2 linked regions of the Homo sapiens genome follow. The protein of the gene in region 1 purifies or fractionates together with the protein of each later gene. This does not show direct contact. Each region holds a gene or a part of one and is shown on either strand. Other genes may lie near its edges.

Region 1 (2,926 bases):
ATGCACTCTTGAGTTAGCAAGTGGGGTGACACCACTCTGAAAGCAAAACTAGAGAAAGCAGCATGGGCAGGAACGGTCCTCTGGATGGTAGTCTTGGGCTTGCATTGGTGTCCCCATCTTTTCTGGTCCCTGAAATGCTGAGGTCCAGCATGATAGCAAGTAGGTAAAAGGGTATGTCCTAAGCAATAAATGATGGGAGCCACCAGGTAATATTCCCCCAAAGCTGACTCATTCCTGCTTCCTTGCCAATCTCTTTCATCCTTCAGCTGAGGACGATGACATGAATGAGGACACAGTAGAGAGGATTGTTCGCTGCATCATCCAGAATGAAGGTGGGTCTAGCATAGCCCCTTGCTCCCTCTTCTCCAACCTTCTCTTGCCCTGACCTCCACCTCCACTGACTCCCTCTTTTCCTTCTTCCCTCAGCCAATGCTGAGGCCTTGAAGGAGATGCTGGGGGACAGTGAAGGAGAAGGGACAGTGCAGCTGTCCAGGTGAGCTGGAAACAAGGGCCAGCATGACTTAGCTTGCCTTGGAGAGTATCCTCTCCTCCAGCACAATCCTCTCCCAGCCTCCTTGCATGTATGGGGTTGGGGGAAGGGCAAAGCTGGCTAACTTATAGGAAGAAAGTTGTTTTGTAGAAATCGCGATTCCTTCAAACCATCTCTCTCATCTAGATATCATCAAGCCTAACATTCACCTCTAGTGCCACTCCTTTGGGTTAAGCAGTGTTCTTTTTAGCAAACAGCCCTGGGAGGAAGAACATATGGTCACTAACATCTTAATATTGAGTTTATTAGATAAAGACAAGAAAAAATGGGGCTTGGGGAAATTGGGGCTTCTGGGGTTTTAAGGAGCATGCTGAAAGAACGTAAGAAACAAAACATGAAGGGAAATGGAAATGTTACCCTCACTCCCCTCCTCCCTGCTGTCCAGTGTGGATGCCACCTCCAGCCTGCAGGACGGAGCCCCCTCCCATCATCACACAGTGCACCTGGGCTCTGCAGCCCCTTGCCTCCATTGCAGCCGCAGCAAGAGGCCTCCACTTGTCCGTCAGGGACGCTCCAAGGAAGGAAAAAGCCGCCCCCGGACAGGGGAGACCACTGTGTTCTCTGTGGGCAGGTGGGGCAGGTGCTCCAGGGAAAGGGGGGCTGAGGTAGGGGGCCCAGTGATCAGGCACCTGATCCCAAAAGTGGGCCTTGGCTCTTTCCTCCTGGACTGGGAGCTCCGGCAGAAGTCAGGCTACACAATGTGCCCCACAATCTGAGAAGGCCTCCCCTACCTTAGGCCAGAGGGAAGTAGCCACCAAACTCAGGATGTCCCTGGTCAGAGGGGAGGGCCAAGCAGCCTCTGAGTTGTGGTCCTAAACCCCAGTGTTCCCTCCCCTCCCAGGTTCCGGGTGACACACATTGAGAAGCGCTATGGACTGCACGAACACCGTGATGGCTCCCCCACAGACAGGAGCTGGGGCTCTGGTGGGGGACAGGACCCAGGGGGTGGTCAGGGGTCTGGGGGAGGGCAGCCCAAGGCAGGGATGCCTGCCATGGAGAGGCTGCCCCCTGAGAGGCCACAGCCCCAGGTCCTAGCCAGCCCCCCAGTACAGAATGGAGGACTCAGGGACAGCAGCCTAACCCCTCGTGCACTTGAAGGGAACCCCAGAGCTTCTGCAGAGCCAACACTGAGGGCCGGAGGGAGGGGCCCAAGCCCAGGGCTGCCCACTCAAGAGGCAAATGGGCAGCCAAGCAAACCAGACACTTCTGATCACCAGGTAGGAAAACACAGCCGGGACTGCACTGGGCTGGGCTCTTATTGCTCTCTACTCTGGGGGGCACTGATAGGACCTACTCCTGGTCTCTCATTGTTGACCCCTCCCCTTTCTCTCAGGTGTCTCTACCACAGGGAGCAGGGAGTATGTGAGGTGAGTCTGCCTGAGCCCTAAATGAGGTAATCTCATCTTCCCATCACCTACTTAAACTATTTAAGCCTTTCGGCTCCCTGAACCCCCCGAGTAAACTGCAGGCTTAGCCTTTGCTATAAATCCCTTGGTTTGGTGGTGGAGGTAGGGAAGGTCCTGGAGCCCCAGGGGAAAAGCTGGACACAGCTTGAACAGGAAGCAACAGTGTTATTCTTCCTCTTCTCCAAGTCTCCTTCATTGTGCTGATGGACTACCAGCTGGCAGGGCCAGGGGGTGGGTGGGCGTGAAAGCCCTCCCCTCCACTGGACAGCACTGCCCCCCAGCTGAGGGACCAGCTCTACTTCCACCTGGAGTTGCACAGTCTCAGGCTGGGGGCCTCAGGAGAGGTCACAGCCCCTCAGTCTCTTCTCCTTCCCCTGCCTGCAACAGGCTGCCTGCCCCGCCTTCCCCAACACCTCGCTCCATATGATAGAGCGTGGCAGCTGGGAGCAGGCCCCTGCCCGTGGTGGGCCCCTAAAGCAATAGCACCGTAGGCCCCCTGCCCTCTTAGCACAAGAGGCCCAGGCCCTGGCCTGGCCTTCGTGCCCTTTATTCATTGTCAATAAATCCGCTCAGACCATTACAGCTGCTTCGCATCCTGGCTCCAGCTCCTGATTCCCAAGGCCTGTTCCTCTCCCCAGCCCAACCCCAGTGACCCTGGCATCCAGAGTGGGGTGGGTCATGGAGCCAGGGTGGGGAAAGAGGTGGGCCAGAACTACTAGAGACCTTGATGGATGGTTTCCAGCCCCAGAGATTTCAGGCATTTCACCACCCTAGATAGGGTCATGACAGAAGAGAAGGTAGTTCCGGTCCTAGAGATGATAGAACAATGGGAAAAAAAGGAGTGGGTTCCAGCTCTAGAAATGGGAAGGGGCAAGTTTCCACCCTTGGAGGTGAGGGTGGAAATAAGGGCGATTCCAGCTTTTGGCTGTGTTGCTCTGGATCATTGATGGTGTGGTCTGACAGCTTGAAG
Region 2 (3,809 bases), on another chromosome or scaffold:
GGGAGCCCCGTTCTAGTTGGGGAAGACCGACGAGATAAGTATCTAGCAGGCAGGGCAAAATGACAGCAGGTGGAGGGCGCCGCGGACCCCCTCATCAACCTCCTGGAGAGCCGCGTGTCCCTCCTGGAGCCCCGATGTCCCCATAGGAGAAGCAGGCATGGTAGCCACTATGAGGATTGGATGAGACAGCGGGGGAAAGGGCGCTCAGCAGCATCCGGGCCGCGTCTGCGCGGTCGCCCCAGTTACTGGGGACAGGGTGGGAGGCGAAAACCGCCTTGCTAGAGAGGGAGCTGGAGGGGAGGGCGGCGGGGCGGGCGCTGGAGAGCTGGAAACAGCGCGGCTTCCCCCGGCCGCCCGCAGGTGGGGCTCCCTGAGGACACGGTGAAGCGCTGTGTGCAGCAGCTGGGCCTGGCGCTGGACTTCATGCACGGGCGGCAGCTGGTGCACCGCGACATCAAGCCCGAGAACGTGCTGCTGTTCGACCGCGAGTGCCGCCGCGTAAAGCTGGCCGACTTCGGCATGACGCGCCGCGTGGGCTGCCGCGTCAAGCGCGTGAGCGGCACCATCCCTTACACGGCGCCTGAGGTGTGCCAGGCGGGCCGCGCCGACGGGCTGGCGGTGGACACGGGCGTGGACGTGTGGGCCTTCGGCGTGCTCATCTTCTGCGTGCTCACCGGCAACTTCCCGTGGGAGGCGGCGTCGGGCGCCGACGCCTTCTTCGAGGAGTTCGTGCGCTGGCAGCGGGGCCGCCTGCCGGGGCTGCCTTCGCAGTGGCGCCGCTTCACCGAGCCCGCGCTGCGCATGTTCCAGCGCTTACTGGCCCTGGAGCCCGAGCGCCGCGGCCCAGCCAAGGAGGTGTTCCGCTTCCTCAAGCACGAGCTCACGTCCGAGCTGCGCCGCCGGCCCTCGCACCGCGCGCGCAAGCCCCCCGGGGACCGCCCGCCCGCCGCCGGGCCACTGCGCCTCGAGGCGCCTGGGCCGCTCAAGCGGACGGTGCTGACCGAGAGCGGCAGCGGCTCCCGGCCCGCGCCCCCCGCCGTCGGGTCGGTGCCCTTGCCCGTGCCGGTGCCGGTGCCAGTGCCCGTGCCGGTGCCTGTGCCCGAGCCCGGCCTAGCTCCCCAGGGGCCCCCCGGCCGGACCGACGGCCGCGCGGACAAGAGCAAAGGGCAGGTGGTGCTGGCCACGGCCATCGAGATCTGCGTCTGAGTCGCCTCCGCCGCCCTCGGACCCGGGAGCAGCCCGGGCCCGCCCCGAGCCGGTGCCCGGTGCGGCGGTAGGGAATGGAGCCACCTCGCCGCGGGGCAGGGGGCGCAGCGGTAGACTAGGCAGGACGCGGCCCGGCACCTGGTCCGTCCCCGGCGGGCTGGTGAGGGGGCCACCAAAGACCCCTAGCGCGGCCTGGTGAGCGGGGGCTTGGCCCAGAGGAGCCAAGCCGCACAGACCCGAGAATTCGGAGGCCACCACACAACACACACACACACACACACACACACACACACACACACACACACACACACACACACGCCAGGAGCAAGGGAGCTTTCGGGCCACACTCCCAGACGCCTCCCTGAGCCCTGGAACCCGGACTCGTTGCTCCTGGCCTTCCATACCCCCTGGCAGATCATCCTGCGGTCCCACCCCAGATCCCCTCCTCCTCGCCATCCCATTCTGCCCCCTCCCCACCCTGGGTACAGAAAGGGACTGAAGTGTTGGGCAGAGAGGGGGCTTAAGGCCCCTGGGCACAGGCTGGGATCAGGGCAGTGAGCGAAGGGCAGCTGTGTCCTGCCCTCCCTTCTGGAGGCTGGAGGGGAGAGGCCAAGCCCTTGGAAAATGTAGCAAATGTCTGGATGTCGCATAAGTGCGTGTATGTGCGGGACAGGCCCCGAGAAGCTAGTGACTCCTGCACACCCCCATTGCACAAATGAAATCACAGCCCAGGAGGGAGGGTAGCTTGGCACTGGCTGAGAAATAGAGCTCTCTCCCCGCCCCTCCCCCTAACCACAAGGGATTGTCCTGACAACTTGTGGGGATAGAAGGGCTCACAGGGCAGGGGTCTCAGCTGCCCCCATCCTTAGGGCAGGGGAGTTAGTGTGGAGCCGAGAGCAGGTCCCAGCTCCCCCTGCCAGCCGCACTGTCCCAGGCCCAGGGACCTCTGCCGGGTCCTCCCAGCCCTTGCCACACAGCCTAGACGTAGTAGCCTGGGCTTCCAGCAGGTGGCGAGCTGGTTCGTGCTGGAAATTTCTCCTGGGTTTCTTGGGGTCAAACATGCCAACCTCCAAGACCCCATCCTCACGTCTCCCACTTTTCTGGCGCTGGAGTGTGCAGGGCGTAGGACCTGCATGTGTGGGTGTGAGAATGGGGGCGGTGGACACCAGGGGGCGAGTGTGTGACTAGGTGTGTGTGCACATGTGTAGGGTGCAGACGCATGGGTGCCATCCTTTGCGTTCAGTGACTGTGCGTCCAGACCCCTCACCAGCGGCCCCCCCACCACACCCTGGTCCTCCCAGGCAGCTGTCCCAGGGCGCCCAGGCCTGCCTTGCACCACAGCCCTCAGGAAATCCGGCAAGGAGGCCCCTGCAGGTTGGTTCAGGCCCCCAGGTAGCAAAACAGAGACAACAGCAGCCCCGCCTGACCCCCTGCCCCTCTCTGTGGAGGCCCGGGACCCCCGCAATAAGCACCACATGGGTGAGGCTGTCCCTGTCAGGGTCCCCTGCCAGGGTCCCTCCTGGGGTTCTGGGCCATTTGAGGGGCTCTTTGATGGGCCAGGCCGGCCAGAGTGAACTCCGAGCACTTTCTGGCTGGTGCCCCAACCTCTCCACTCCCCACTCATTCCCACCTTGAAAAAGGGCTATAGGTCCCCTGCCCTGCCCGGGTCCAGTTTACAAACAGTGTGGGGTGGCCCCAGGGCCTGGCCCCACTCTCCCTGCTGTGCCCACTCCTCTCCAGACTCCACCTCCCCAGTGGGTATGGGCCCTCCACATGCCAGGTAAGTAGCAAACCCCCACTCCCTCCAAGGACCAGGTCTCAGAGAAGGCCCTGGTCACTGCCCCCGGCCCACCTGGAGCCCATCGGGGCTGCCTCTCCCAGCCGCGACTTCTCCTTTTGCCTTAGGCCTCGCGACATCCTGATCTCTCCTGCAATAACTAGGAATCGAGATTCCACAGTAGACGTCCCTTGCCGTGCTCGCTCTCTCTCTCGCGCGCGCTCTCTCTCTCCCTCTCTCTCTCTCTCTCTCTCTCTCTCTCTCTCTCTCTCTCTCTCTCTCCTCTCTTTCTCTCTCTCCCTCTCTCTGTTAAGATCCTGTTCGGGAGTTTCCCCAGCCGTTGTAGTATCTAGTATGTTAGAGTTGGGAGGGGACCATAGTTATGTAGCCCAGCCCCCTCATTCCCAGAGGCACCCAGAGGGCCAGCCTCCAGCCTGACCCCAGAGCAGAACCGGAACACCAGGTTGGGGCCCTGGTGCTGCCACCTCCTCTGCTGGTCGGGCTGGGACCCTTTGCCCCTTAGGAGAGGTGTTGGTCACAGATGTTTACCTCAGTTTATGTCACTGTCGAAGAAACAAAAAATAATAGCAAAAAATAACACTGTAGACATGAAGACTTAGAAGACAAAAAAAAAAAAATCACACAAAAAATCTCCCTTGTTGCGATTCTTCTGTGAAGGTACAGTGTGTATGTGTGTATGTGTGTATGTGTGTGCGTGTCTCTGTCCCAGACCCTGTGTCCCCCACACTGCCCCCTGTCCTTCGGTGCTTCCCAGAGACCCCTCTGAGCTGGCCTGTGGGGCACGGGAAGCCCCCTGGATGGGAGG

Evidence for each region.
Region 2: the proteins of FCHSD1 (region 1) and SBK1 purify together in Homo sapiens (affinity purification with mass spectrometry, with the first as the bait; one study listed by BioGRID). This does not show direct contact.

Annotation. Positions count from the first base shown.
Region 1 is NC_000005.10:141,638,529-141,641,454, forward strand, and holds the end of FCHSD1 (F-BAR and double SH3 domains protein 1), read right to left. Parts: 3' UTR 2,161-2,926; coding exon of another isoform or gene 2,143-2,160; 3' UTR 1,939-2,142; coding exon of another isoform or gene 1,392-1,938; 3' UTR 1,122-1,391; coding exon of another isoform or gene 936-1,121; 3' UTR 774-935; downstream 1-773. Other genes in the region: RELL2 (RELT-like protein 2), read left to right, coding at 267-332, 427-493, 936-1,121, 1,392-1,938.
Region 2 is NC_000016.10:28,319,716-28,323,524, forward strand, and holds part of SBK1 (serine/threonine-protein kinase SBK1), read left to right. Parts: intron 1-360; coding exon 361-1,206; 3' UTR 1,207-3,809. UniProt on the Homo sapiens protein: May be involved in signal-transduction pathways related to the control of brain development.